Homo sapiens: one gene and its partners. The protein of the gene in region 6 purifies or fractionates together with the protein of the main gene of each other region. This does not show direct contact. Each region holds a gene or a part of one and is shown on either strand. Other genes may lie near its edges. The genes, in order: BICRA, HMCES, NNT, RSBN1L, SFSWAP, NEIL3 and RBM25.

What was found.
Region 1: the proteins of NEIL3 (region 6) and BICRA purify together in Homo sapiens (affinity purification with mass spectrometry; one large-scale study listed by BioGRID and IntAct). This does not show direct contact.
Region 2: the proteins of NEIL3 (region 6) and HMCES purify together in Homo sapiens (affinity purification with mass spectrometry; one large-scale study listed by BioGRID and IntAct). This does not show direct contact.
Region 3: the proteins of NEIL3 (region 6) and NNT purify together in Homo sapiens (affinity purification with mass spectrometry; one large-scale study listed by BioGRID and IntAct). This does not show direct contact.
Region 4: the proteins of NEIL3 (region 6) and RSBN1L purify together in Homo sapiens (affinity purification with mass spectrometry; one large-scale study listed by BioGRID and IntAct). This does not show direct contact.
Region 5: the proteins of NEIL3 (region 6) and SFSWAP purify together in Homo sapiens (affinity purification with mass spectrometry; one large-scale study listed by BioGRID and IntAct). This does not show direct contact.
Region 7: the proteins of NEIL3 (region 6) and RBM25 purify together in Homo sapiens (affinity purification with mass spectrometry; one large-scale study listed by BioGRID and IntAct). This does not show direct contact.

The regions. Positions count from the first base shown.
Region 1 is NC_000019.10:47,607,308-47,612,360, forward strand, and holds the start of BICRA (BRD4-interacting chromatin-remodeling complex-associated protein), read left to right. Parts: upstream 1-1,826; 5' UTR 1,827-1,861; intron 1,862-5,053. UniProt on the Homo sapiens protein: Component of SWI/SNF chromatin remodeling subcomplex GBAF that carries out key enzymatic activities, changing chromatin structure by altering DNA-histone contacts within a nucleosome in an ATP-dependent manner.
Region 2 is NC_000003.12:129,288,586-129,292,943, forward strand, and holds part of HMCES (abasic site processing protein HMCES), read left to right. Parts: intron 1-268; coding exon 269-412; intron 413-2,093; coding exon 2,094-2,219; intron 2,220-4,358.
Region 3 is NC_000005.10:43,601,734-43,605,979, reverse strand, and holds the start of NNT (NAD(P) transhydrogenase, mitochondrial), read right to left. Parts: upstream 2,801-4,246; 5' UTR 2,686-2,800; exon of another isoform or gene 1,310-2,685; intron 1-1,309. UniProt on the Homo sapiens protein: The transhydrogenation between NADH and NADP is coupled to respiration and ATP hydrolysis and functions as a proton pump across the membrane. May play a role in reactive oxygen species (ROS) detoxification in the adrenal gland.
Region 4 is NC_000007.14:77,765,422-77,769,779, forward strand, and holds part of RSBN1L (lysine-specific demethylase RSBN1L), read left to right. Parts: intron 1-73; coding exon 74-211; intron 212-3,239; coding exon 3,240-3,382; intron 3,383-4,358. UniProt on the Homo sapiens protein: Lysine-specific demethylase that specifically demethylates methylated lysine residues of proteins.
Region 5 is NC_000012.12:131,713,735-131,718,092, forward strand, and holds part of SFSWAP (splicing factor, suppressor of white-apricot homolog), read left to right. Parts: exon of another isoform or gene 1-336; coding exon 337-506; intron 507-1,087; coding exon 1,088-1,219; intron 1,220-4,358.
Region 6 is NC_000004.12:177,354,403-177,358,760, forward strand, and holds part of NEIL3 (endonuclease 8-like 3), read left to right. Parts: intron 1-2,592; exon of another isoform or gene 2,593-2,768; intron 2,769-4,358. UniProt on the Homo sapiens protein: DNA glycosylase which prefers single-stranded DNA (ssDNA), or partially ssDNA structures such as bubble and fork structures, to double-stranded DNA (dsDNA).
Region 7 is NC_000014.9:73,099,733-73,104,090, forward strand, and holds part of RBM25 (RNA-binding protein 25), read left to right. Parts: coding exon 1-18; intron 19-3,459; coding exon 3,460-3,746; intron 3,747-4,358. UniProt on the Homo sapiens protein: RNA-binding protein that acts as a regulator of alternative pre-mRNA splicing. Involved in apoptotic cell death through the regulation of the apoptotic factor BCL2L1 isoform expression.

The DNA of each region.
Region 1 (5,053 bases), on a different chromosome or scaffold from region 6:
TTGCCCAGGCTGGATAAATTATTATTATTATTACTATTTTTGAGACAGAGTTTCCCTCTTGTCGCCCAGGCTGGAGTGCAATGGTGTGATCTCGGCTCACTGCAACCTCTGCCTTCCGGATTCAAGCGATTCTCCTGCCTCAGCCTCCCAAGCAGCTGGGATTACAGGCGTGCACCACCACACCCAGCTAAGTTTTGTATTATTAGTAGAGAAGGGGTTTCACCATGTTGGCCAGGCTGGTCTCGAACTCCTGACCTCAGGTGATCTACCCTCCTCGGCCTCCCAAAGTGTTGGGATTACAGGTGTGAGCCACTGCGCCTGGCCGATAAATTATAAAAAAAAAAAATACGTTGAAGTAAATATTATGGGTAGTACCGCCAAGATACTAGAACACATGTTAAGGCTTAAAAAAACAGAGGCCGGGCACTTTGGGAGGCCGAGAATAGCTTGAACCCAGGGGACGGAGGTTGCGGTGAGCCTAGATCGTGCCACTGCACTCCAGCCTGGGCGAAAGAGCGAAACTCCGTCTCAAAACAAAACAAAATATAACACAACAACAACAAAATCACAATCTGTCTCGATTACTCATTTATTCAACCCGCATTCACCTACTGTGTGCACGAGCTTTTCTAGGGCACTGGGGAGGCAGAAGGGACTAAAACAAAGTATAAATCTCCCTGGGCTGCAAGCATCGGGAGGGCAGGTCCGGGGGCTCTGTGTCCCCACTGGGCCCCCAGCACTGCGCAGCGCACACAGTGGGCGCTCACCAAGCGCTCGCTAAGGGCAACGCGTGAATCCGTGTCCCGCCAGCAGGGCGTTTACGGCCTGGTGGGGCGGAAACGGACCCGACACCACCGCGGCGTCCTGGGGCTTCTGGGAATCCCATCAGCGCGGCCAGAGCGGCCGGGGACAGGCTCCGAGGCAGGCCCGACCCGCCTCCCCGGCGCCGCCGTGGCTCGACGGAGACCAGCTAGGGTGAGTGATCGAGCCACGCCTGGGGTCCCGGCCTGTCACCCCGAAGTCCCCGCCGCCTTCCACCCTGTCAGGCTCCAACTCTGGGCTCCGGCGCGGTCCCACCTCCGGGGGGAACTCCCCTCCATCCCCTCCATTTCCTTCATCCTCGACTCCCGCTATCTTTTCGGACCTGCGGCGCTCCCCCTGGACGCGTCCTCCCGCCGGACGACCGTCCTCCGCCTCAGGGGACGCGCCCAGGACGCACGGCGCCCCCTCCCCAGCCGGACCGGCGGTCTGGGAGCGCGGATCCCTTCAGCTCCCCCGCGCCCCAGCATCCGGATCAGGGCTCGAGGCAGTCGACAAACTACACCCGAGCTCGAGCAGGCGCGCCCCTGAACCCCCGGGACTGGGGCTGGGGGCGGGGGCGGCGCCGGCGCGGAGGGCCCAGTCCCCGGACGTCCGCAGCCTCCCATTGGCTCCGGGTCCCGCCGCTCGGCCTGGCGGGGCCGGGGCTGGTCCGCCCGGACGCGGGGCGGGGATTCCTGAAGCCCCTCCTCCGGCGAGGGCGGAGGGAAGAGGAGGAGGAGGAGGAGGAGGAAGGGGGTGGGGGGCGGAACACAAAACCTGAGAGGTTTTTTTTTTTTTTTTTCCGTTTGCATTTAATTAAAAAAAATTTTTTTTTTTTTTGCATACCCGAGGGGCGCTCCCCGGAACGGGCGCGGGCCCGGGGCGCGCGGGCCTGGGCGCGGGGCGGCGGCGGGGGCCCGGCAGCGGCTGCCGAGCGGCCGCCATGCGATCAGGCAGTGCGCTGACCGGCCCGGCCGGCCGGCCCCTTCTGGGTCCTCCCTTTGCAGCCCGTGCGGGGCCGTCTCGGAGACCCCGCGCCGACGGCTGCTCAAACATCAGGGTGAGTTTCTCACAATGTAGCAATTTCTCTTTAAATCTCTTAACTCTCTCTACCTGCGAGTCGGGGCTGTGACAGGGCGCAAAAGCGAGGGGGGAGTGGGGGTTGGCGGCGAGGGTGTGTGTGGGGGGAGCCGGAGCCGGGGCCGAACCCACCCCCGCGACACTCTCACACTCAGCCCCCCAGCCGGGGCGCAGCGCCCGCTGCCTCCTTTTTTTTTTTTTTTTTTTTTTCCTGCTCGGCGCCCACCGCCACCGGCACCCCCAGCCCCGCGTCTCTTCCACCACCGCCGCCGCCCCGATCCTATGGGGACCCCCCCCCAACCGGCTTCCCTGCCCAGACCCGGCGCCCAGTGCCTCCCCGGCCCTCCCGCCGGCTGCCGGGGATACAATGGAGCGGCGGAGAGAGGAGACCTAACGTTCCACGGGGGGAGGGGCGCGGAGACCCCCTCCCCGTCCCGGCCCCCTCCCCTCGCCCCGCTCCCCGCCTTTCGGGGAAGGCGAAGGCCACCGGGCAGCGGGCGGTGATCTCCCGGCCGGAGGCGGAGAGCCTGCATCTCCCCGCCTCGCTCGGCCCCTGCGCCCCCTCCCCAAATCCCTCCCGTGGGTGTCGCGGACAGTGGGGGGCCCTGGAAAGCTGGGGAGGGATGGATGGGGAAGGAGGCCACCGGGGCTCCCCCCTTCGCACCGCCCCTAAACAATGAAAGGAGTTGACTTGACCCCCAGCCCCCGGCAATAGAGGGAGGTGACCCCCTCCCCCACCCCCAGCTGAGGCTCATCCCGGAGGGGGCCGTTACGGGGGTGGGGGGGGTGAGCGCCTCCTGTCACTTCCCGAGGTTCGGGGCGGCCCCCCATCTCCTACCCCTCGGCCTGGGAACGGGAGGCACCAGGCCCGGCCGGGGCACCGCGCTCGGGTGGTGACCTTTAGACAAAGGCAGCCCTTTCCCCGGGGTGAGCCCGGACGAGCTGGGCCTGCGGCCTCCCCGGGCCCCTGCGGAGGGCAGCCAGGCCGCGGGCACCCGGAGGGAGGGATGGAGGAGGAGGGAGGAGGGATGGAGCCATCTGGTTTTCCCATCCCTGGCTGCCCCTCGTCTGCTTCCCCGACTCCTGTCACGGGCGGCCGCGGGGAGACGAGGGACCAGGGGCTGCTTGGGCCTTGGTGCGCGGCCAGCCGGGAGGACCGGGCAAGGAGCCGCGGGAGAGCTAGGCTCGGGCTCGGGCGCCGGCGGTGATTGGGAGGCACTGCGGCTTCTTCCTCTCCGCGCCCCTTTGTTTTGCTTTGTGGTTCTGAGCAGCTGAACTTCCCGGGAGGTGGGGTCAGAGGCCGCGGTGTCAGCTCTCCCGGGGAGGCCCAGGTGACAGGTCCTAGCTCTCTGGTGTCCCCATCCTGGTGGGCTGCAGTCTGTGCCCAGGCCCATGTCCTGACCATCGTCCCCTTTTGTCACCCCCCCCCCACACACACACCTACCTACCCACCCCATAGTATAATACAGATCTAGGGGTGCCTTTCTCTTACACCTCTTTACGGAGGGCACTTGAAAGGGAAACTAGAAACATCCAAGGCATCAAGGCCTGAGATTCATGATAAGCTCTCTGTGCTTTTAACCTCTCCCAGCACCTGGGGTGGGTGTGGGGGGTATTGTCAACTCTGACCTGCCCTGGGTCATGAGAAAATGGGAAGACAACTCAGGAAGCACCCCCTTCCCATGCACTGGTAGGACTTTTGGGACATGTTGACCTCCCTTGCCTTCCCTCATAGCTCCCCGCTCAAGATGGAAATATTAATAACAATATCAAACTAGGGAGCTTTATTCCGCTGCTGCTAAGTACATTACACGCTGGCCACAGTCCAAGGAGGAAATAGAGACGGGACAGACATTCCCGTTTTCCAGACAGGTTCATGGAGGCTCAGAGAGGTTAAGAAGCTTGCCCAGGGTCACACAGCCCTGGGTCACACAGAGCCCCAATTTGTAACCTCCTGGAGTTTTTCCAGCTTGGCTCAAAACTGTTAAGCCCTTCTTCTGTCCCACCCTTTGGCATTTTGTCCCCCTGACTTCAGTGGACCTGGTTCGGAAATGTAGATAATATTTAGAAGAAGCGGCCAGATTTTTTTTTTCCCTGGGAGCTGGTTTTGAGAAGGGGTAAGATGCACCTCGAAGTTGGGCTGAGGGCAGGATCATTTCACTTGTGGCTGGAATGGAGAATTGTCTGCAGGAACTGAGAACTGAAGGTGTGTGAGGAGTGGGGGAGGGGGAGCCCCAGGCCTGGCCAGTGATGGGCTCGGGGTACCTGGGAGCTGGCCCCACTGTCATCTTCTCCCTTCTCTACCTGAGCGGGGGACTTGGCCCCATTTGCTGCTACTCAGCCCTGAAGTAGAGAAGAGAGAAGCTGAACTGTTTGGGAATGTTGATGTCTGGTTGTTCCTATGCCCTGTGACCCGCTGTCGCTTTGCCACACCATGGCCCTTTGATGCAGCTAGCGGAGAACTTTCTTGCCTGTTCTCCTTGGCATGATCCACTCTGTAACCTTAGGCAGGTCATTTAACTGCTGGTCCTGTTTTCTCATCTGCAAGTGGGGGTAATTATAGTTCCTTTAAGTGACCTGGAGGTGGGTAAAAGTATTATCCAAACGTGTCATTCATATTTATCATTCAGCAGGCCGGGTACGCAGTGTGGGCACAGGGGAGGAATGTCAACTGGTGGCATTTAATTTTTTTTTTTTTTTGAGACAGAGTCTCGCTGTGTTGCCCAGGCTGGAGTGCAATGGCCTGATCTTGGTTCACTGCAACCTCTGCCTCCCAGGTTCAAGCGATTGTCCTGCCTCAGCGTCCCGAGTAGCTGGGATTACAGGCACCCACCACCACACCTGGCTAAATTTTGTATATTTAGTAAAGACGGGATTTCACCATATTGGCCAGGCTGGTCTTGAGGTCCTGACCTCAGGTAATCTGACTGGCATTTAAATTTAAGGCCAGGTGCCATGGCTCACACCTGTAACCCCAACACTTGGGGAGACCGAGGCTGGAGGATTGCTTGAGCCCTGGATTTTAAGACCAGCCTAGGCAACACGGTGAGACCCTGTGTCTACAAAAAATGAAAAAATTAGTTGGGCATGGTGGCACTCACCTGTGGTCCTAGCTACTTGGGGGTGCTGAGGTGGGAGGATTGCTTGAGCCTAGGAGTTTGAAGCTGGGGTG
Region 2 (4,358 bases), on a different chromosome or scaffold from region 6:
ACTTGGGAGGCTGAGGTGGGAGGATGGCTTGAGCCAGGAGGTAGAGGTGGCATTGAGCCAAAATAGCGCCACTGCACTCCAGCCTGGATGACAGAGCCAGACCTTATCTCAAAAAAAATAAAAAAATTGTTTTCAAGTAGATTCCCTGTTTAAAAATAATCTTGAATTCTTTATATTTCAATACTCCTAAATAATGTAATAAATACATATGTTAAATTAGGTTAGAATTTCATTATGATCTCCTCACTAGATCTTCTCTCCGTGGCAGGATGCAGACTCATCTGAGCGTATCATTGCTCCCATGCGCTGGGGCTTGGTCCCTTCTTGGTTCAAAGAAAGTGATCCTTCCAAGCTGCAGTTCAATACTACCAACTGTCGTAGTGATACCGTAATGGAGAAACGGTCATTTAAGGTAGGTGGCTGGTAGCTATTAGTGCCCCGTATACCTCAGAAATAAGGTTCCAAAGGGTGTTTCCATCCTAGCCTACAGAGGACAACCAAAAATAAATAAATAACACAAAAAAGAATGTTCCCAGTTGTTAATGTGGAATGCTATTTTGTTACTACATAACAAACCACACCAGACTTAGTAGTGTGAAACAAAATGATAAACATTATCTCTCATATTCTCTGGGTTGACTGGGCTCATCTGGGCAGTTTTCACTTGGAAGTTCTCATGTTGCAGTTAGATGGCAGCTGAGGCTGGATGTCCAAGATGACTTCTTCACCCACATCTGACCCTTCAGCTGGGATGACTAGAACAACTAGAAGGCTTTCCATATGCCTAGCTCGAGGGTGTCAGGGTAGCCAGGCTTCTGTTACGGTGACTCATTTACCCCAGAGCTCATGATCCAACAGAGCAGGACAGAAGATATAAGCCTTTGTCTTACAGCATCACTTAATCTTGGCAGTCATACAGCATTACTTATGCTGTATTCTTTTATTGTTATTGTTTAATTTTTTTTTTTAAATAGAGACAAGGTCTGGCTATGTTGCCCAGGCTGGTCTCAAACTCCTGGGCTCAAGTGATCCACCTGTCTGGGCCTCCCAAAGTACTGGGATTACAGGTGTGAGCTATCACGCCCGGCCTACTTCTGTTGCATTCTATGGGTTACACAGAGCCAGCCCAAATTCAGTGTGGGAGGTGTCTACATAGGGTGTGAATACTGGGAAGCATGCTTCATTGGGGAGGCACCTTTGAAGACTAGCTATGACAAGTACCTATTTGTTAGAAAAGAGGTGATTGCTTTTATGTACATTATTTAATCTTTTCAACATCTATGTGAGTTGTGACTTTCTTTATACATAAGAAAAGAGAGTGGCCGGGCACGGTGGCTCACACCTATAATCCCAGCACTTTGGGAGGCCAAGATGGGCGGATCACGAGGTCAGGAGATCGAGACCATCCTGGCTAACACGGTGAAACCCCGTCTCTACTAAAAATACAAAAAATTAGCCGGGCGTGGTGGCGGACGCCTGTAGTCCCAGCTACTCGGGAAGCTGAGGCAGGAGAATGGCTTAAGTAAACCCAGGAGGTGGAGCTTGCAGTGAGCCGAGATCACGCCACTGCACTCCAGCCTGGGCGACAGAGCAAGACTCCGTCTCAAAAAAAAAAAAAAAAAGAAAAGAGAGGTACAGAGAAATTAAATAACTGTTTTAAGGTCATACATTGGCAGACCTCAGATTTTATGTATTTATTTGTTTGTTTATTTATTTTGAGATGGAGTCTCATACTTTTGCCCAGGCTGGAGTGCAGTGGCATGATCTTGGCTCACTGCCACCTCTGCCTCCAAGTTCAAGTGATTCTCGTGCTTTAGCCTCCCAGGTAGCAGGGACTACAGGTGTGCACTACCACGCCCAGCTGATTTTTATATTTTTAGTAGAGATGGGCTTTCACCTTGTTAGCCAGGCTGGTCTCGAACTCCTGACCTCAAGTGATCCTCCCATCTCGGCCGCCCAAAGTGTTGGGATTACAGCCGTGAGCCACCCGCCTGGCCCAAACCTCAGATTTTAATTCAAGTTCTCCAAGTAATGGCAGCCTGTGAAACATGATTGTATCACTAAGACCATATCTTGCTCACATTTTCCCTCAGGTGCCTCTGGGAAAGGGAAGACGCTGTGTCGTTTTAGCAGATGGATTCTATGAGTGGCAGCGATGTCAGGGAACAAACCAGAGGCAGCCATACTTCATCTATTTTCCTCAAATCAAGACAGAGAAGGTATCATTATCAGCATTCACAATATATATTTGGAAAGGCACAGGGAAACAAATTAATCCAAAGGACATTTTTTTCTTCCCCATAGTTTTATTTATTTATTTTAAAATAACAGCTTTGGCCCAGTGCGGTGGCTCACGCCTGTGATCCCAGCACTTTGGGAGCCCAAGACGGGAAGATTGCTTGAGCCTAGGAGTTTGAGACCAGCCTGGGCAACATGGTGAAACCCCGTCTCTACAAACAATACAAAACTAGCTGGGCATGGTGGTGTGTGCCTGTAGTCCCAGCTACTCGGAAGGCTGAGGTGGGAGGATCACTTGAACCCACGAGATAGAGGCTGCAATGAGCTATGATCACACCACTGCACTGGGCGACAGAGCAAGACTCTGTCAAAATAAAATAAAATAAAGTGAAATGAAATGAAATGAGCTCATTGAGAGATAATTCACCTTAAAATTCACCTTTTTAAAATGTGCAATTCAGGAATGTTTTAGTATGTTCAAAGTATGCAATTATTACCTCTATTTTTAGAATATTTTTATCACTCTAGAAGGAAACTACATATCCATTAGCAATCACTCTTTATTCTCCACTATGCCCAGCCCCTGTCAAACACGAATCTACTTTCCATCTCTGGATTTGCCTATTTTGGACATTTCATAAAAACAGAATCATAGAATATGTGGTCTTTTGTGACTGGCTTCTTTGATTTAGCATAATGTTTTCAAGATTCATCCATGTTTGGCATGGATCAGCACTTCATTCCTTTTTGTAAGAACAGACCACATTTTGTTAATTCATTCATCAGTTGATAGACACTTGGATTGTTTCCACTTCTTGGTTATTATGAATAATGCTGCTATGAACATTCATGTACAAGTTTTGCATGGATTTGTTTTCATCTCTCTTGGATAGATGCCTAGGAGTGGAATTGCTAGGTCATATTACAACTCTACGTTTAACATTTCCTTCATAAAACTTTCACTGTGGCTGGGCGCAGTGGTTCAGGCCAGGCACGGTTGCTCATGCCTGTAATCCCAGCACTTTGGGAGGCCAGAGCAGGTGGATTACTTGAGCTCAGGAGTTCAAGACCAATCTGGGCAACATGGCGAAAACCCATCTCTACCAAAAATACAAAAAATTAGCTGGGCGTGGTCCCAGCTACTTGGGAGGCTGAGGTGGGAAGATGACTTGAGCCCAGGAGGTGGAGGTTGCAGTGAGCTGAGGTCGTGCTACTGTACTCCAGCCTGAGTGACAGAGTGAGACCCCATCTCAAAAATGAAACAAAAACCCTTTCACTGTAAGACATAATTTGAACTGTTCATGTTAAAACATTATCAGGAGATTGAAAACAAATCTGACATGCCAACATCATGTTTTATTTTTAATTAGATTATTTAGTCTGACACTGCTAAAGCACCTGAGTTCTTAGCAGTTTGCTTGTTAAAATTGGGAATTGTTTGTTCACCTGTCATCTCATTTTGGGGACTGGAAATAGTGTTACCGAGTAAAAGGGACTTGCTACCCAATGTGCTAGAAGCCAATACCATGATACTGAGTAGCTGGTCCCAGCTACTTGGCAGGCTGAGGTGGAATGATAGCTTGAGCCTGGGGTGGGGAGTGGAGGGTGCAGTGAGCCGAGATTGCACCACTGCACTCCAGCCTGGGTAACAGAGAAAAGTTTTTTTTTTTCTTCTTTTTTTTTTTTTGAGACAGAGTCTCTCTCTGTTGCCCAGGCTGGAGTGCAGTGGCGTGATCTCGGCTCACTGCAGCCTCTGCCTCTCGGGTTCAAGCGATTCTCCTGCCTCAGCCTCCCAAGTAGCTGGGACTACAGGCGTGTGCCACCAGGCCCGGCTAATTTTTTGTATTTTTAGTAGAGACGCGGTGTTAGCCAGAATGGTCTCAATCTCCTGACCTTGTGATCCACCCGCCTCGGCCTCCCAAAGTGCTGGGATTACAGGCGTGAGCCACTGCGCCTGGCCGAGAAAAGTTTTTTATTTCAAGTCGACTAACAAGAAGACAGGAGTCCAGCTCAACTCTGTCTCCCTAGCTGGCTTTAAGGAGTACTTTTATTAAAAAAATGTTTAGGGAGTGGATTCTGGGATTAGTAGGTGATTGGTGGAAGGAAAGGGGAGGCCTGGA
Region 3 (4,246 bases), on a different chromosome or scaffold from region 6:
TATTTCATGGCCTGAAATCTGGAAAATTTGTTCCTTCTACTTGGAAAATGGTAATTTGATGTTCAGCAGATCCTTGGCAGGGGCATCAGACATCAGTAGGGCCAAAGCCTTCATAGGCCCATTTCTGTGAAAAATTTCACTTGATTCAACTGTGAACATACAGGGCAGAGATCAGGAGGTCATTTCTTGGCAAAAGCAATACATATCACTAAGTCTAAACCAAATACAAATGGCCCTGAAAGATAGAGAATATTTAAACTATCTTATCATTGACCTGTACAGGTTTATACAAAAGATAATACTCCATCCTAATCATCACATTTTCCTCCATCTTCACTGTAAAGCTCTCATTTATCCATGTGTTCCTGTGGCTTTGAAGCAATAAGAAAAAAACTTTATAACTCAAAATTAGGGGAAAAAAGCACAACTTTTTTTTTTTTTTTTTTTTTTTTTTTTTGAGACGGAGTCTCGCTCTGTCGCCCAGGCCGGACTGCGGACTGCAGTGGCGCAATCTCGGCTCACTGCAAGCTCCGCTTCCCGGGTTCACGCCATTCTCCTGCCTCAGCCTCCCGAGTAGCTGGGACTACAGGCGCCCGCCACCGCGCCCGGCTAATTTTTTGTATTTTTAGTAGAGACGGGGTTTCACCTTGTTAGCCAGGATGGTCTCGATCTCCTGACCTCATGATCCACCCGCCTCGGCCTCCCAAAGTGCTGGGATTACAGGCGTGAGCCACCGCGCCCGGCCCAAAAGCACAACTTTTTAAGCATTGCTTTCATATGTATGTTTAATGTAACTTATATGGGTTATTTCCCCTATTAGATATTAAAATCCTTGAGGGAAAGCACCCAACCTAAAGAGGGAGGATACCACAGATATTTAAGAGAGTCAGCTCTGGATCTGCGGATTGGAAGCCCCACTCTGCAACTTATTGGCTGTGTGACCTTGGGAAGTCACTTAACTTCCCTGTACTTAATTTCCTCATCTTTAAAATGGGGAATAATAGCACCCACCCAGGGTGGTGGCTCACGCCTATAATGCCATCTCTTTGGGAGGCTAGTGGGGAGGACTGCTTGAGGCCAAGAATTCAAGACTAGCCTGGCCAACACAGTGAGACCCCCATTGCTAAAAAAAAAAAATTAATTAGCAGGGCATGGTGGTGCAAGCCTGAAGTCCCAGCTACTTGGGAGTCTGAGGTGGGAGAATCACTTGAGCCCAGGAGTTCCAGGCTGCAGTAAGCCGTGATTGTGCCACTGTACTCCAGCTTGGACAACAGAGCGAGACTTGAAAAAATAAAATAACAGCACCTACCTCTCAGGGTTGTTGCCAGGACTGAGAATATCCTTATCAGCTGTTATATTCACTTTGGTATTACTCTCCCCCAGTGCTTTGCACAACACAGAGGAAGTCAGTATTTTTGACTGAATGAATAGGGCTAGGTGACCTTAAGCCTAAGTACCTATTGAGCACATTTTCCAAGGATTTTCGGAAAATTTCCTTTGAAAAGGAAATGTTTGTGTAGCCTTGTGGAAAACTGATTCTATCACCAAGGTAAGCAGCCTAAGCGCACCTGCTGGAAAGAAGGCAATCCTAAACTGTCTGTTAATAAAAAGTCAAGGTTTACAAATAAAAGGGGTGCAATGAAGAAAAGGGGCACACTTTAAATAAGAAGAGTAGGTAGGCACCTAAGCCCCACGCGCTTCTCCGAATAAGTCTGTCCTACAAGACTCCTGACAAACAGACCACCTAAGGACTGGCCGGCGCCACAGGGTGAATAAAGGACACCGGCAACCATAAACAAGTCACGCTTTTAAAAGCGAGACATACCAGCAAGGACACAATACCCTACTGAGCCAGCTTCGGCTGGCAGGCGCCGTGACCTCACCCAAAGCCACTGGTGTCACGGCTACTGCCACCGGTGCCGTCCCTTGCTCGGCAACTAACTGCCACCCGCTGGCATCTGCACGAGACCGCTATTTATAACCTCCCTAGGAAGCCGATTGGCCACGGCTGCAAATAGTCATTCCGGCTGTTGAGTTTGAACTAGCTCTGCCCAGGTCGCCCTCTCCGCTGTCTCTTCCTCCTCACCAGCCTAGGCCCCAGAAACTTGTACCCACCACCGCCAGACCGCCCCAACTCACACTCACAATTTGTGCTCGCAATCTCCTATGTCCCCAGCCGGACACCCTCTCCGAACTCCCTCAAGGGTCAAGCATACCTCAAGGGCATCCAGCTGCCACCTCTCTGGATGAACCGCCCATCGAAAGTCCTCTATGACCTCCCTCTCCACCACCCCCGATCTTGAGGGCCGAAATGACCCCGTACGACTCTCGCTGTCCCCCAAAGCTGCAAATATCTGCACCTGCACAGCTGCCGCCTCATTCCCTGCCCTCTTCGGGGACCCAGTTCCCAAATCCACCAGCCCACTCCCTTCGACATCGCCCCAGCAGGAGACGAGAAAGGGACACCAAGAGGCACGGTGCTTCTTCCCCACCTAAGCCTGCGGCCTGCGGACACCCCAATGCACCCTGCGCCCGGGACACCGCCGACCCCGCCCCGCTTTGCTCTTTGACAGGTCTCTCTCCCGGCGAGGGCCGTGGTCTTCAGGAAAGGCCCGAGCCCCTTTCCCAGCTGCGCCCTAGGCGCGCGCCCCGGCTGCCCGCACCCGCCAGTGCCGTCGCGCTCACCTGGGCCGGGAGGCTGACAGCCTTGGGCTGTGCCCTGAGGGCCGCGAGAGGACGTCGCGCTGGCAGACCCGGGCTTGGGCCCCGCGGCGCTGCGCCTCCAACCCGGAAGAACAGCCCCAACTCCGCGGCGGCGGGCGGCCACGTGACTGCAGCTCCGCTCCCACCTCGGCCCGCGCCCCTTCCCCGCCCCAGCTTTCTTCCCGCCAGGCCCCCTCCACCCGATCGCCGCGCGCTCTCCGAACCAAAAGGCGACCTCACGAAATGCCCCTTTGAGCTCAAAGGCTAGTTACCCCCAGGGGCCCTTCCACTCTCGGGGACAGGCGAAACCTCTTTGTCTCTGCCTCGGCCTGCGGCCCCCAGCCCAGCCTCCGCGCTTTCCCTCCGCCAGTCCTTGTCAATCAAACCTGGTGCCAAACGCGGCAGCTGAAGTTTTCAGGGACACATTTGCTTCTCCCCTTGAAGAACCAGTTACAAAGCGTGATGTCCTCTCTGGGGTCCCATCAGAACAAAGAAACAGGTAATATAACTCCACTCCGGGTACCTGCCTTTCCTCCAGCTCGCTAGGAAAAATCAGAACTTCTGTAACAGAGAGGACCCAAGGGAAAGGGGCAGGCGGAGAGGGGTTGGTGAAGGGCGGGAATGGGGGGCGTTGATTTTCCATTCTGGCAGGAGAGGTGGAGTTAAATTCCTCAGAAACGATGTCCAGGCTTGAAAAGTAACACACATCTGCGTGCTTGTCTTCCAACATCAGAGCCAGCCTAGAGGAAGCTGGCTAGTGTCACTGCTAGTACGAATATCCCCGAGGCTGGAAAGCATCTGGGTGGAGGTTGTGAGCTTTCCAGACCAGGCCTCGGCTGTTTTTCTAAAACTATTAACCGTAATGACCTAGTCGTTCTTTTCACACAGTTCTGTTACTTATTCTGCAGGTGTATTCTGACTAAAAGTGGGAGGAATAAAAAATAGAGTGTAAAATGGTTCACTTGCCCAAAACTTAATCATCATGAAGTGTCAGTAACGTCATTTATTTCTATTAATTGAAATTTTGATACAAGAAAAATAATTATGAATCTAAAAGGTATAAGCAGAACAGGTATTCCATAACTTTAAAAAGAAATGAGCCGCAGGGAAACCCTTAGTTTGAGAACTTGTCTTGTGATTAACCTACACAGAAGGTCATTCAACTAATGGATTCCCACTGCAGTCCAAACTCACAGACAGGAAATGACACAGCCCCATGTTTTAAAATAATAATGAGCCGTGGTAAGTGTGACCATAGGGACGGTTTCCAGATACTGAAGGTACAATGAAGTGAGATTAGTAATGATCCCACTTAGTAAGGATTTTAAACTAAGTTATTGATTTAAAACTTTTTGTAGGGGTCAGGAGTTGCTGCTTTGTCTTTTAGGGATTAATAATTCGTGGTTCCCAACTGGGGACAATTTAGTTCCGAGGGATATTTGGCAATGTCTAGAGACATTTTGGTTGTCACAATTGGAGAGGGGACCTATCTAATGGGTTGGGGCCAGGGATATTACTGAACACCTCACACTACACAGCCCCT
Region 4 (4,358 bases), on a different chromosome or scaffold from region 6:
ACTTTTAATTAAATCCATATTCTTCAGGTAAAAAGAACGTATTTAACTTTTAATTAAATCCATGTTTCTTCAGGTAAAAAGAACGTATTCTCATGGTACTTACAGAGCTGGCCCAATGAGACAAATAAGCTTGGTGGGAGCAGTTGATGAAGAAGTAGGAGATTATTTCCCTGAGTTCCTTGACATGTTGGAAGAGTCACCATTTTTAAAAGTAAGAGACAATCTGTCATGGGATTAGAGTTTTTTTTTTAAAAAAGGGAAGAAAAACCAATATGAGTAATCTAAATTGTGATTGTTTCTTTCATGCTACATGCAATATAAATGAATGGCTGTTTCAGAAATAGAAACGTTTTGGTTTTATTTGAACTGGAGGGAAGGAGAGCAAGAGATGGGAAACTGACATAATTCTTGTGTAGTGTGTACATGCGACATCTCAGGTTCTAATTGTAATGGCAAAGCTAAGTGGTGGGCCATGAAATAACACCTCTTAACACTTTAGGAAATTAGGTTCCATGTGTTTATCAGCTCTTTGTAAACTAAGTACTAAAGGACTTAAGAAGTACAGGAAGGATTCTACTACAAATGTTTAAGACAAAGGAATGGCAGTTTAGCATTCCTAAACTAAATTCCAGGAAAACTCGCCTGGGAAATTACACACCCATATTTTAGCCATGGCTGTACTTATCTGGGTTGGGCAAGCCCTTTAAACTTTCTGGGCTTCAGTTTCATCATCCATAAAATAACATGTTTAGACAATGTAGCCAAAGGCCCCTCTATTTAATTTATTTTTTTGAGACAGCCTCACTCTCTGCCCAGGCTGGAGTGTAGTGGTGTAATGTGGAGCCCTGACCTCCGTGGGCTTGGATGATCCTCCCACGTCAGCCTCCCAAGTACCTCGGATTACAGGCACATGCCATCATGCCCAGCTAACTTTTGTATTTTTTGTGGAAATGGGGTTTCACCATGTTGCTCAGGCTGGTCTTGAACTCTTGGACTCAAGTGATCCTCCTGTCTTGGCCTTCCAAAGTGCTGGGATTACAGGTGTGAGCCACTGTGCCCACCACCACAGGCCCCTTTAAATAGTTTGTAGCCAGATTCCTTTTTTTTTTTTTTAAAGCCTCTTGATTTTCAAAAAGTATTTCTTATTGTGAGGTGCTAGGGCTATCCCACTGAGAGAGGAATCTCTGAGCTGTGTGGTTAGGTTAATTATTTAATCAGTAACTCAAAGGTCAATGCTGCAAACCTACACTGAAATTCAGGGTCCAGGTAAGCTGTGGAATGTGACAAGATTTCTGATACCACATAATCTATAGGACATCTCTTCTTTTATTACTTCTGTTTGCTTGGTGTTTTTACCCTATATGTACATATATCTTTTTCTTCCCTTTCTCTTTAACCTTGTTCCATTCCTTTTTCTCTTTTCCTTTTAAACTTTTTGTTCCTTTTCTACTTCTCTCTAGTAGTTACATCATGGAATTAGGTTGCATTTATTATTGGACTATATTTAAAAATTACCAAATATTACTTAAATGGTTGCTTCAAGTTTAATTTTCAAAGCACATGAACTAAATGCATTATTTCTCCTTTCCTTTCCTTCCCCTTCCCCTTCCCTTTCCCCTTCCCTTCCCCTTCCCCTTCCCTTTCCCCTTCCCTTCCCCTTCCCCTTCCCTTTCCCTTTCCCTTCCTTTCTTTCGATGGGGTCCTGCTATGTTGCCCAGGCTAGCTTTGAAGTCCTGGGCTCAAGCAGTCCTCCTGCTTCAGCCTCCCAAAGTGCTGTGATTACAGACGTGAGCCACCCACACCCAACCTAAATGCATTGTTTCTAAAGAAATTTGACAAGCCTTTTTGAAAAGGGGGTGTGTGGTGAAATTTTTTTTTTTTTTAATTTTGTTCTCAACATTCCATGGACAGTGGCCCTCAGTTTCCTTCTTCCCTCTCTCTGTCTTTTTTTGTTTGTTTGTTTTTGGTTTCAGATGGAGTCTCGCTGTGTCATCCAGGCTGGAGGGCAGTGGTGCGATCTCGGCTCACTGCAACCTCTGCCTCTCAGGTTCAAGCAATTCTCATGCCTCAGCCTTTCGAGTAGCTGGGATTACAGACACACACTACCATGCTAGGCTAATTTTTTGTATCTTTAGTAGAGATGAGGTTTCTCCATGTTGCCCAGTCTGGTCTCAAACTCCTGAGCTCAGGTGATCTGCCTGCCTCAGCCTCCTGAAGTGTTGGGATTACAGGCCTGAGCCACCGTGCCCGGCCACCGTCTTCTCTTTTCTCTTCCCCTTCCCCTTCACCTCTGTCTCTCGCCTCGCCTCCCCTCCCCTCCCCTCCCCCCTTTTTCCCTCCCCCTTCCCCTCCTCTCCCCCCTCCCCCTTCTCCCTCCCCCTTCCCTTCCTCTGCCCCCTCCCCCCTTCTCCCTCCCCCCTTCTCCCTCCCCCCTCCCTCTCCTTTCATTCTTTGGAGTCTCGTTCTGTCACCAGGCTGGAGTGCAGTGGCGTGATTTCGGCTCACTGCAACCTCCGCCTCCGAGGTTCAAGCGATTCTCCTGCCTCAACCTCCTGAGTAGCTGGGACTACAGGTGCGCGCCACCATGCCCAGCTAATTTTTGTATTTTGTAGAGACGGGGTTTCACCGTGCTGGCCAGGACGGTCTCGATATCTTGATATCTTGACCTTGTGATCCGCCCGCCTCGGCCTCCCAAAGTGCTCGGATTACAGGCGTGAGCCACTGCGCGCCCAGCCTTGTTCTTTCATTTTAAAATACTTTAGTCTCTGGTTTAAGCCAACAACCTCTTCAAGAAACTGCTGAACAGAAATATGTTTTGATTTTGTTTTGTTTTGTTTTTAATTATCATTAATCAAAGAGGTATCCAGTTTTTAAACTTAAATTTAATTGTTCATTTTTATAGATTCTTATGAGAGCACTTGCTTATTTAGTCCGTTAACATCATATGATCTATATGGTAGAAGGAAGAATAACAAATGATGAATATAGTGAATCATACCTCTAGCAGGGTATAGGGACAGAACCATCCAAGCATAATTATTTTCTTGGTGTGTTTGAAACAGTTTTTTGAAGCAAAGTATATCAATATATAGGGATATATTCAATATTATGTATTTCAGATGCTTAAGTATAAAGCTGTGTATGAAAGTGTGTTTGTCAGGGGAACAATATTATTATTAACATACACTTGAAGATACATTTTGAAAATAATTGCAATCTGCATAATTATTTATCTCCAGTGTACACTGCCATGGGGGACGCTATCTAGTCTAAAATTACAGAGTCGAAAAGATAGTGATGATGGTCCCATCATGTGGGTTCGTCCAGGAGAACAAATGATCCCTGTGGCTGATATGCCAAAGTCACCTTTCAAAAGGAAAAGGTATGTTGTATACACATTTTTATTGGAGGGGATGAGTGTTTGTATGTTGGGGTGTGTATGTTAGTTGAAAATTGGAGGAAGGAGGAATGCAAAGTTTAGAGCATAATTGGAATATAAATTTAAAAATAGCGATACATGCTAATACAATTTGTTATAAAACCTAAAATGTAAATAAAGCATGAGAAATGTAGGCAAATGACAAGAAATTGTAATGATGGATGGAAAAAATGTCATAAGATATAAACTATTTTAGAATAAATGTAATATTCAGAACCTATACTAAGAAGACTAAAATGTTTTGTGGAGGATATAAAGTAAGATCAGAACAAATGGAAAGCCCTGCTGTGTTCTGGATTGGATAAAAATGATAGTTCTTTAAAATTTTCTGCATTTCAATTGGACTAACACTTCCAGTCCTGGATAAAATTATTTTAAAATTCATAAGGAAGTAAACTTTTCAGTGAAAGAGAAGATTAGTGAGAGGCAGCTTATGATACAGGATATTAAAAATTACTATAAAGTTCAAATAGATCATTGGAATAAGAGTCCAGAAATAGATCTAAGTATATTGGGAACTTAATATATGAGATAGGTGGGAAGAGGAAGATGTATTTAATGAATAATGCTGGCATATTTGGCTCTCATAAAAACAAAGGCAGAGCCCCTACCTCATACAAGAAGTAAATTAGAGAATTAAGCATCACAGATAAAACAGTTAAAATATTAGAATAAAATTGTTTAAGCCTGGAGGAGACCTTCCTAAGCAAGACCAAACAATGCAGTGGCAATAGTATTTGGGGGGGAAGCGACATCAACAATGAGGTTCAAAATTATGATAGACTGGACTAAGACATTTGGAACTCATGACACACCAAAGTTAATGTACAAAGAGCATTCTCAAGTGTAAACAACCCAGTAGAAAAATAACCTCAGGTAGTTAAGTTTATTTTAAAAGAACTATGAGATATTTTTATTC
Region 5 (4,358 bases), on a different chromosome or scaffold from region 6:
ATTGAATGGTTGACCAAACCATAATGGTAAGAACTGCCAGTGAAGTGGGTACCATTTTTGCTATTAATGGATTGTTTGCCTTTAGTTATAAATGTTATCTTACTGTGGAAAGGAATTTAGAGTTTGTTAAGATAACTTGAGTTTAAAAGTAGGTGAGATATGACTATCCAAATTAAATATAAATCTGGGAAGAGTTTTTATACTTGTTTTAATATTTTTGTTTATTTTAATCGGTAAGTATGTGTGTGTATATATATATACATATATAAAACATCACACACGCACACCAGTCTAGACGTTAATTTCCTTTTATTGACCAGCTTGTTCACATTACAGATATGATGGACGTGGTCACCTGCATGACCTTTCTGAGTACGATGCTGAGTATTCCACGTGGAACAGAGATTATCAGCTGTCTGAAGAGGAGGCGCGAATAGAGGCCCTGTGTGATGAAGAGAGGTATTTAGCCTTGCATACGGACTTGCTTGAGGAGGAGGCAAGGCAAGGTACTGCTCAAGACAAACTTACTTCAGCAACAAACTTTTTAAAATTTTTAAGTATTTAAAAATTTACTCCCATTCATTTTTTTATACTCACTCTTTCTGATATTATCTTGACAGTACCCAGTGGATTGGAAAAACAGGAGTCTTTGCGTTCTGAGAGGACCTCAGGATAGTTTATATATAGAGCCACAAAGAATTTTCCCAGCTTTTGAGGGCAGACTGGGATTTGAAAAAAACAAAAACCAAACTCTTTAACTGTTCTTCTTTAACAGTATCGTATAAATAAAATTGATGTTCTTGTCTTTGCCGTAACAGTCTTTAATACAGTTCTTAATCCCAAAATTTTCTCAGCAGGAAGAAATTTTCCACAAAAGACGTGTATTCAGCTGTCTGTGGGTAAACATGTACTGACAAAAGTACATAATGATAGATATAAAGTGTGAATTTTTAAAACTATTTTACCTCAAAAGTAGGTTGAAAAAAGTATGTTGTATGCTTTACTGATAGCTACAACTTTAGAAATATATAAAGTTTTTCTCAGTAATTTTCTATTTTTGTTGATAAAATTCTCATTTTTATTCAAGAGGAAGAATACAAGCGATTGAGTGAAGCACTAGCAGAGGATGGGAGCTACAATGCCGTGGGGTTCACTTACGGTAGCGACTATTACGACCCGTCAGAGCCGACGGAGGAGGAGGAGCCTTCCAAACAGAGAGGTGAGTGGGGAGCTGCCTGGACTGCTGGTGTAGGGCTACACGTGTACGCACAGGCTGCATGCACCGTGGTCCAGTCTGCAGAACACATCTCTGGCACTCATGATAGCACCACTATGACCACAGGAGAAAACGGGAGTGATATTCCTTCTTTTGGTAAAACGAAGTTAAAAACTAGAATGATTAATGGAGGTGGAAAGTGAATGCGTTGGATTATTTATTTCTCATTGATTCGGGTAACAGAATTACTCATTCAGGATTATTTGTTTCTAGATTGGTAACATGTTCATTAATATCCTCAGGGATTCATTCTTGAGGCAGTGAAAGAATAGGTGTTAACTGGGATAAGTTAACATCACCGCCCTCTCACTGACCTGCTTCCCCATATCCCTCCACAACTGAGACAGTGACACATGCCCAGTGGAAGGACACAGTGAGGGAGTTTCTACTCCCCAGAAAACAGCACAGCTTCCTGGTAGCCTTGATGCCACCTAGGGCATATACTTACCACAGTATTTTAAATTAAAGATTTGGAATTTATGCTTTTCTGGATTAACATGGGAAACTTTGAATATAAAAAATAGTGCTGCTGAAAAACCTGGGCTCGTGTAGTATAGACACAAATATCCTCAATCACTTCACTAAGCGTCGAGAGCTCCACTACCACAGCGCTGCATCATGGTCAGTCGTTAATTAGCAGTAATGCTAACATGAACCTGACACCTTAAAGACGGGTCAGTATATTCAGGATATTCTGTTTAAAAAGAAGAAGAACATTAACTTAGAAACATTCAAATGTTTACATTACATCAAATGGAGATTTAATTGTAGAGCTAATTTAATCTGTTATTCTGAACTTCATCGGTTTCTCCTTAAGTAACACTTTTTATCTTTTTAAATTTTTTTATTAAAATACACAATAATTTAAAAAAAGAGATGGGGTCTCACTGTGTTGCCCAAGCTAGTCTCAAACTCCTGAGCTCAAGTGATCCTACTGCCTTGGCCTCCCAAAGCACTGGGATTACAGGCATGAGCCACCACATCCAGCCAAGTGACACATCTTTTAACAAGTATGAAGCAATTATAGCACTTTAGTAGTAAAGCAAAATGATGTTTGCCCTTCCATCCTGTGACTGCACTATGGTTCTACCCATCGGCACTCTCCAAGGGCTGCGATCCTAACGGAATGATAGGACGTGGGGCAAACGCACACACCGGCTTTCCTTTTGCCCTGTCTTTAGTCCTGCTCCTTACTTTGTGGGCACAAGAATTACTGTTGCACAGCTCTATTTTATGAGCTTTTAGAGAAACTTTCAAGTGTAATTGTAATTATACTGAGTTAAAGGCCAGTTAAGGTATTTAAGACTTTTTGCATTGACTTTCAAACCTACCCATCCCTCAGAAGTTACGATGCACTAGAAATGTTCTATCAGGTCTAAAACGTAAACACCCATTTATTTATCCAGAATAAGCTCTCCTTCCTCGGGTTCTGGATAGTTCTGATTTTGTTGTCTTATCTCTAAGCCACACACATGAGTTCAGCTTTCTATCTGTGGTGTTTTTATCAGAAGGAAGGAATAGATACTATAGCCACTTCACAAATAAAGAGTTGAAATACAGTCAGCTTATTGGGTCCACATCTGTGGATTCAACCAACCACAGATCTAAAGTATTGGAAAGAAAATAACAAAGTTTTATTGGAACACAGCAATGCTCATTTGTTTACATATTGTCTGTTGCCACTTTCGCACTTCAGCAACAGAGTTGAAGAAATGAAACACCATATGGCCCACAAAACCAGAAATATTTATTAATACTGTCTGGCATTTTATAGAGTTTGTCAGCCCCTATTCTAGATGATGGACCATTGTCTCGGCGTAATTATTGGGCTAAATGATGTTCAGTTTGTTATAATTATTGAATCTTGAGAACTTCAGCATGACTTAGCTTATCATCTGAGTATTAGTTTGCTTTCCCCTTAAGATAAAGTTCTCTTTAGTATTTTACAATGTTACTTCTTTTCTTTCTGTAATCGTGTTCTCAGAACATTGCCTTATATACTGATTAATTTCGTTAATGGAAATTGGGCCCACATAAAACTTAGAGCTTGACATTTCGTGTTTAACTTGCATTAATATAAGTGAAACACCTAACACACACACACACATACGTGCATATTGTAATAGAATCCAGTACCACTAACAGCCCCATTGAGCGTCACATTCTGTTAAAATAAAATTTTTTTTCCTGAGCCATCAATATGTCTACGTATGTCTTGATTTTCAAAATTACTGTATTGTATTGTTTGTTAGTATTTTAAAGCCTTGTGATACTAGCCAAAAGCATTTTGATGGTGCCTCCATCTCTGATCTTTACTATTTTCAGTCAAGTTTTTATCCTTTAGATGTTCATAATTTTTCATCATTATTCTATATCCATTTTTTTCCCTCTTTTTTAGGGGAATAATGGGGCGGGGACAGGCCCTCACTGCTATATATCCATTTTTTAAACAAAAGGTTATTTGAATTTATTTAAATCTGAGTTTGTAGTGCAATGGTTGGTTTTTATTTTGTGCTACTAAAGCTGTTTTTTTGTAAATAAAGGTATATATAAGAATAGACCAAATCTGTTTAACCCATCAATCCCAAAAAGCTATTTCAATTAAAATGCCTTGATTTTTATGAATAACTTAACATTAAGGAGAAGCTATTTGCCTAGACAATGTTTTAATCATTTTTTTCATTTTAGGAAAATATAGTAAAAGTTGTATTTTTAAATTTACTTTGTTTTACTTTTTTGAGACAGAGTCTCGCTCTGTCACCCAGGCTGGAATGCAGTGGTGCGGTGTCAGCTCACTGCAACCTCCACCTCCCGGGTTCAAGCAATTCTTGTGCTTTAGCCTCCCAAATAGCTGGGATTACAGGCGCCCGCCACCACAACTGGCTAATTTTTCTATTTTTAATGGAGACAGGATTTCACCATGTTGGCCAGACTGGTCTCAAACTCCTGACCTCAAGTGATCCGCCTGCCTCGGCCTCCCAAAGTGCTGGGATTCCAGGCGTGAGCCACCACACCCGGTTACAGGTGTGAGCCACTGAGCCCGGCTTCATCTCTGATTTTTGAAAGAACAGGGGACTCAAAC
Region 6 (4,358 bases):
ATAGTCTTCCAAAAGGGGAACTATTTTTTATAAAAGTTTAGTAAGTATACTGTGTTCTAAAAGGAGGGGTCTGAGGTGCCTGTAGTGACCTTTCTGTTAAAGAACGTGGATGGATCTCAAACAGTCATGCGAGATGGTGTTTATTTTTATTTTTATTTTTTTCTTTGAGGTGGCGTTTTGCTCTTGTCGCCCAGCTGGAGTGCAATGGCACAATCTTGCCTCACTGCAACAACATTCGGCTAATTTTTTTTGTATTTTTAGTAGAGATGGGGTTTCGCCATGTTGGCCAGGCTGGTCTCGAACTCCTGACCTCAGGTGATCTGCCCACCTCAGCCTTCCAAAGTGCTGGGATTACAGGCGTGAGCCACTACGCCTGGCGTTGTTCTTTAACTAAAAGTCCTAAAAAGCATACTTGCTACTTTGTATCTGAAATTCAAAAGTTGTAATTCTAACTAAGAAATACTACCAGAGCAGATATATTTTATAGGACTTCCAGCTACATGTCCAGGAGAACACCCTCATTTTTGTCACCTGTGATACAGAAATTTTAATACATAACGTCATCCTCTCTTTTCCTTAATGATTATCGGCAGCTCCTGAAACAATTTTCTGTTGACCCTCCTTCCCCCTTTATCTGGCCCTCCCAGTCCCTTTATCTGGAATTCCTAACTATGGCAACCCGATGTTATATCTCCAACACAGGACACATTTCTCCACCATTTTCTTTTCTCAGCTGCTTTCTTTTTTCCTTCAGAAAGCAGCTGACTTACATCCAGCATTTTTAAATAAGTGGAGAATTTATAACATATAAATGGAGGGTCGTCCTCCCATGTATGTCTTTTCTTGCCAATGGGAGACAGGCAGAGAAGGAGTTACAGTCATCCCTCGGTATCCTCAAGGGATTTGTTCCAGGACCCCCAGGATACCAAAATCTGCAGATGCTCAAGTCCCTGATATGAAATGGCATAGTCCTTGCATATAACCTATGCACACCTTTTCATATATTTAACTCATCTCTGCATTACTTCTTATAATACTGAATTCAATATAAAGGCTGTGTAAATAATTGTTATACTGTATATTTTGTGTAATTTTTTTATTGTTTCATTATTTTTTGTTTCCAAATATTTTCGATCCAAGGTTGGTTGAATTCATGGATTGGGAACCTACGGCTATGGAGGGATGTACTTTGGTTGGGACCTAGAGTAATCTCAGGTGGAATTCTGAGATTCACTGGCTTTTCCTCTTATTAGCTGTGCCTTTACTGATGGGTAGATGCCTTCTCTCAGCGGTGGGGTGAGGGACCATTTGGTGTAAACTCCTAGAGCAACCTGTAGGAATCCTTAAGCTTATTTCATAACAAATTCTGAGACAGTCTCTGCTCAATAGATGTGTTTACTCCAAGTTTCCTATTCCAGCTCTAAATTTACCATCAGTTAATCCTGATGATTTATCCTTGACTGGTTTTTTTAATGTCTTGTTCATAATCATTTATGATAACTGGTTTAACTTTTGTTCATATACTCACATTTGAAGTAAGCTAAGGGGGCTAAACTTTTAACTGACTGGATAAATCCACCACGTTTTCACTTTAACCCTAATTAGTGCCTCATGATAGAAGTTCATTAAGGAGTTAATTAAGAATGTTTGAGTTGGGAGGCTGTCCTGGAACAGAAAATCATTTCCAAACAGTCTTTTCTGTTCCGTGGCTTAAGTGGAAAGTAGAAGTGATCATCTTAAAATATTGTGGCATTTGTTGTACCTAGATGAAATATCTTGGCATATTTTTATTTCCTTAATGCTTTGTAGAAAATCTCAGACATTTTAACTAATGAATTAGGGATTTAAAAAAACATTAATGTAACCTTAAATTTAAATGATTTCTTCATAAGCCATTAGTAATAGGATCATATGATTAATCACAGTGCACAGCATTACTTAGGAATGCTGCAGCCTGTGTATGTATTGAATATAAGAACACCAGGACTGAGACTCCACAATCAATCAAGATCAACTAGCAGAATAAATGTCAAGTGATGAAATAAATTCACCCAGCAGCCCTTCTGCACCCAGCTACTTTACAAGGAATAAATTGCAAATTACTGTCATTTATTTCATTTTTCTCCTTGTCTGGCAGCTATAGTGTTCATCTTGTGGACAAGATGCCTAGCAGAAGCTCACAACATAATACTATTAAAGCAGGTGGTCCATTCATAATTTATAGCCAGTTTATTTTTTCTTTAATATTATATGATAATTACTTTGACTTTTGTTCTCTTAATTACTGTTCTCATTACCACACAATCCATGCAGTGTTGATGAGGCATATTTTCTGATTGGTCTTGAGATAGATGTGTATTCCATCCAGCTATTGGCTTATAAATTAGATGATTGAACCCATTTTTAAACAGTTAAGAATAATTACTAGAAACAGTTTAAGTTGTCGATCCAATTACTGTAAACACAGAGCAAAACACAGTGATGCAGTTTCAAAGAATGCATGTGTTTTAGGCTGAAATTTTTCCTGCGTTGATGCAAAGGCTCACATAGGAGGGTGAAATGACAATAACAAAATCATTAATATTTTCTCACATTTGCTGCCGTCAGGGATGTTGAAGATCTGTCTTTAATCACCAGTGCAAGTACTGACACCATGTCCTTGTCTCTTGGTTGCTTCTTGGAGTTTTCAGTCTCAGGATTTCAGAACCACCTGGGGCCGTCCAGAATGAGTCATTTCACTTTTGTTTGTTTTAATCCTCGAAATAATCCTGTATGACAAAATCTACATTCAGTGAGACCGATTAATCCAAAAAATTCAGACAGTATTTTTATTATAATGAATCGCCCTATCTATAAAATGAGTTAAACCAAGCTTGTCCAACCATAGGCTTGTGGGCTGGACGGCTTTGAATGCAGCCCAACACAAATTTGTGAACTTTCTTAAAACGTGAGTTTTTTGTGTGATTTTTTTTTTAAGTTCATCAGCTGTCACCAGGGTTACTGTATTTTATGTGTGGCCCAAGACAATTCTTCTTCTTCCACTGTGGCCCAGGGAAGCCAAGATTGGACACCCCTAAGTTAAACTGTGATAAATTGACCATGAAAAAATAATATTCACTTTAAAATTACAGATCTGTGCTTAGTAATGTCTTCCTTCTTGATGATAGTTTTTGTCTGGTCTCTGTTCAGTTTTATTTATTAATAAGTATTGAGAATCTATTATGCCTCGGGCATTGTTCTTGATTCTAATGACATGTACATGAGCAGACTATAGCCAGCAGGGCCAAATCCATCCCACCACCTGTTTGTGTAAAGCTTTATTTACATTTGTTTAGATATTATCTATGGCTGCTTTTTGTGATAACAAACTTAGACCGTAAGACCAGCAAGCCTAAAATACGTTATCTGAAAAGGTTTGCCAGCCCCGATCTGTTGTATTAATAGATCACTTATAACCCAGAATTAATATTCAAAATCATGGTCATGATCACGAAAATGAACAATTCTGTATGCTACATTTAAGTAAGAAATCTGCTATATTTTAGAAAGTTTTTATAAAACAAAGAGGAACTAAGATGTCCTCAGTTAATCAGAACATTTAATTATCCTGGATAATGTTGTCTATCATAAAATTAAGATTAGCTGTGCATATTTAGAGCCAGTGTGATACAGGTGGCATTAGTATCTTGGTTACGTTACTTCAGTGCTTCATAACTTAATGTGCATATGAATCACCTGGGAATCCTGCTAACATGCAGATTCTGATTCTGCAGGCAATCAGGAGTAGGGGTGGATATGTCTGTGTTTTCTAACAAGCTCCGGGTGATGCTGCTGCTTCTGGTCAGTGGACCACACTCTGAGTACCAAGAATAAGATCACACGTGGCTATGTTTTTGTTGTTGTTTTTTGTTTTTTGTTTTTTTTGAGAAGGAGTCTTGTTCTGTTGCCAGGCTGGAGTGCAATGGCGCGATCTCAGCTCACTGCAACATCTGCCTCCCGGGTTCAAGGGATTCTTCTGACTCAGCCTCCCGAGTACCTGGGATTAGAGGCACCCGCCACCACGCCCAGCTAATTTTCTATTTTTAGTCGAGACGGGGTTTCACCATGTTGGCCAGGCTGGTCTTGAACTCTCGACCTCAGGTGATCCGCCCGGCTCAGCCTCCCAAAGTGCTGGGATTACAGGCGTGAGCCACCATGCCCAGCCTGTGGCTATGTTTTTAATTTAATTTTTAAGGGAAGAAATGGAGTGGAAGGCAGAAGTGAAGGCAGAGAGATGACATTTGGGCCTCTCCTTTCTACTTTAATCCTACCTTCTACCTTGGCCCTTCTCCCCAGAAAAATTTTAATACAGAATCTAA
Region 7 (4,358 bases), on a different chromosome or scaffold from region 6:
TTCAGAGACACACATAAGGTAGTATTCTTGTCTTTTCACTTGATACCAATCTAGACTTTTTACAGAATCCAAAGCAAAGAGACAAAAAAAATCAACCTTAAATTAGAATATAATTTTAAATGTTTTTTATAGGTTTAATTGATATTTAGATAGAAAAAAGAAACAGAAGACCAATACCATATTAAAGTGGTCCTTGACATGTTGTGCTTAGTTTTTTCAGTTACTGACTATTCTGCAGTCATCTCACTTTAATATGAATAGAAGCTAATTTTATTTTTAGATTTCAACATAAACATCAAGGTCAGACTTAAATTAGATTCAGGGGGCAGCAGGATAACATACACTGTAGTGTATTTCTGGGGGCAGTTATTTAACTTGATCTTAGGAATACCTTTTCTTTAGAGCTGAGATTAAAATTTACATTTTATATTTGTATAGATTTAAGTTGAGTGGGGGAGATTTTAAACAGTAGGTCAGTGGTTACCAGACTTACCAAATTTTAGATGCATGGAAGAACTGTAAATTCCCATAAAGCTAATCTATTCATTGACCCCCACCATTATGATAGAGATCATATGGTGACTAATGCAAGATGAAACTCTCAGCTTGGAAAGTAACAAGGAATAGGATGTAAGTATGAGCTTCTGTTTTTTATTATATTTATGGATGCCCCCTCAGAAAAATATGCAAAGGGGTAACTGGCTTGGAAATGGGTATTTATGCATAGTAAATCCCACTCACGAGTTTTGCCTATTTGAAGCTTCTCTCAATGACAGTGCATCTGTGAATGTTCGCTGGTGTTGAAAATGATGCTTTTGAACGGTGCAATGCAAACACTGCATGAAATGTATTTTGATGGTCGAGATAATAAGGTGTTGCTGGTTCTTACTGATAGACTGAGAGATCTTTAACTCAGTGAAATGTTAAATGTTCATTTTCTCTTTTATTCTTACTTTTTCCCATTGCTTTCAAAATCTGCAGTTCACAAATAATGCCAATGAATCAGTGCTGCTGAACACTTACTATCCAGATGCCCAGCCCTTGCTCACAAACACAATGCTTTTTCAAGAATTAAATGTGTCTAAGAGCACAAACATAATTCTCCCAAAATTAATTTTGAGAGTTGAAAAGGTGGTCTATGGGAAATCATTTTAGATGAATAATTTTGGTTAGGTATAATACTGAAATTCAGGACCGAGTAAGCTTAAAAATGGTATATGGTTGTGTGTGTGGTTTACCCCCTTTTTGTTTTTATTTATTTGTTAAACCCTGTCATGTTATTGGTAAATTATGAGGAAATCATGTTTTAAGAAAAATTCAAAAATATATTTGCTTTAAAGTTTGGGAATCTGTTAGGCATTTTACTGCCTTAGTATTATTTCACTGGAGGGAATGTTTTGAATTTTCAGAATGTCTTTTCAAAATAAAAAGAAATCAAAATGAAAAACCAAAACAGTTGTTTTTTATTGGGTGGTTTGGCTAAAAGGGTTGTTTGAAACTCCAGTAACAAAAAATGAGCTCAGTGAACCTTTGCATGTTTTGGTATGAGTTTATTAAATAACCACAGACTGTCAGGGTATCAGCGTGGCAGGGGGCGTCCATTTACAGCACGGATGAGTCTGAAGAGAGAATAAGGTAAGATTTATGATTTTTTAATCTGTCCTTTCCTCTTCATGACTTTCTTACATAATTTTAGACTCACCTCATTTCCCTTCTCCAGTCTTTCTTTAAAAATATACATGTATGTTTACATGTATACCTGTATTTGTATACATGTGTGTATATATATATATATATATATCTCATATATAAACTTCAGGAAACATTTAGTATGGACTAGATTCACTCACTTTTTCATTTACTTAGAACCAAACTTTTGAAATGAGTTCTGAAACAAATGGTTATTTATATAACTGAATATAAGGAGCACAGTGAAATAAGCAAGAATTAAAAATTGAGGAATTCTACAGGAAAAATTAGTATTGGAACAGCTAAAATATTCTGTAAGTATCTATTTCAGAAATAAACAAATTTCTTTATAAGTGTATGCCATTGAGGTAAGTTTTATATAGTCTAGCCTCATTTTACAATATAAATTTTTATATTCATTGGAACTGTTTCAGAAATGAGATTTTTCCCCCTTTAATAGCTGTTAGTTTCTGTCCTCTTTCTATCATATCTTATTTCATCCCTTTGTAATTTCAATGTATTCAGTTTTGACTTTGCCCGTATTCTACTTCGATATAGACTGGCACAGCAACTGAATATATTGCTCATACATTAGCTTTCCTTTCATAACCTGCTATAAGTTCTCTGATCCATGAGGAAGAGAAAAAGAGTATCTGACAGGTAAGATTGCTTTTTAAAGTTGTTTTAAATGCATTACATGACTGAGAAAAGAAAAATGCACATTTTATTGTTGCAGTTTAAAATTTCATTTTGGTGAAACTAAACGTGAAACAAAAGGGATAAATGTGTTTTGTTTTGTTTTGTTTTACCTGTTTGGGGTATTTTTTTCTGAGTTTGTGTAGAAACCGTGTGGTACACTGGTAATCTTGTCAGGGTACAAACTTGGTCTGACTTTGTTATTTGGTTTATTTGTGAACCATGTACTTGCTCTTCCTCCCAGAAACATAGCTTGTAGGCAAGGTTAATCCAGTGTTGGCGATCCATGTCCTAGCACAGCATCTGTAAGTTAATGCACAATCGTTCCTTCCAAGGATGGATTTATCATTGTAAATATATTTTCATTGTCTTACAGGCATAATGGGCATAAGTATGTTGCTTTTAAATATTTTAAATTAAACTATTACAGTTACATATATTTTGCTTGAAGTGAGTGATTTTCAAACTTTTTGTATTTGGTGGGCTGTCCATCTTGTAATGGTGGGAGTAAATGTTTCCATAGATGATAAGGCAGTTCTTGGCTGAATTCAGCTTGTGTTTCTTTTGGAGGGTGGGCAAATCAGAGGGCAGAGATTATTTAGTTGCATTATAGGTATTCTTCTATACCACTTGCCCTTTGAAACCCTCAACTTGAGGTAATGTGCAGTCTGGGGTTTTAATTAGTATTAATAATCTTGTGGATTTACAGAAATCTATAATGCACAGAGTTGAGTTTTAACCAATGATCGTATTCATAGAAAATATTTCGAACCACCACATTCTTCATGGTCATTTTAGTTAGTACATAGTCATTGAGTGGCCAGCCACACCTGACACAATCTCCCAGCATCCAAGATTGGAGATTCCTGGTCTGTGTAGAGTATATGGTTTTGCACGAAATCTTTCTAGTCTTGTGATTGCTTCAGTTTAATTTGTCACATAAAACCACAAGTATTTAATATTAATGTATCAGTGGTTTGGTGTTTTTGTTCCCAGTACTGGGCTTTGCGCCGGGAAAAATCTGAATACTGGAGCTACAGAGTTAACTCTAAAAGTGCTTTTATTGGTTTCTAGAAACTGGAAGAAGAGAAAGGCAAAAAGGAAAAAGAAAGACAGGAAATTGAGAAAGAACGGAGAGAAAGAGAGAGGGAGCGTGAAAGGGAACGAGAAAGGCGAGAACGGGAACGAGAAAGGGAAAGAGAACGTGAACGAGAAAAGGAGAAAGAACGGGAGCGGGAACGAGAACGGGATAGGGACCGTGACCGGACAAAAGAGAGAGACCGAGATCGGGATCGAGAGAGAGATCGTGACCGGGATAGAGAAAGGAGCTCAGATCGTAATAAGGATCGCAGTCGATCAAGGTAAGGCTTTACAGAAGTTACTGTTTCCTGATAGCTTTAAGAAAACTATCGGGTAGTCCTCCAGAGTACCATTTGCATTCATGGAATGAGAACTTTTGTGTGTGTGTGAGACATTCTCACTCTGTCACTCAGCCTGGACTGCAGTGGCTGAGCAATCTCCGCCTCCTGGGTTCAAGTGATTCTCATTCCTCAGCCTCCCAAGTAGCTGGGATTACAGGTTCATACCACCATGCCCAGCTAATTTTTTGTATTTTTGGTAGAGATGGGGTTTTGCCATGTTAATCAGCCTGGTTTTGAACTCCTGGCCTCAAGTGATCCGCCTGCCTCAGCCTCCCTAAGTGCTGGGATTATAAGCGTGAGTCACTGTGCCCAGCCTGAGAATTTTTTTAGAGACAACATGGTCTTTGTCTGTCTGTCTGTCTGTCTGTCTCTCTCTCTCTCTCTCTCTCTCTCTCTCTCTCTCTCTCTCTCACACACACACACACACACACACACACACACACACACACACACACACTCTCTCTCTCTCTCTCTCTCTCACTATGGGTAAAAGTAATAATTTTCAACTCTGGTTAATTTCTGTCTGAAGCCACTTTTTATAGAAACACAGTG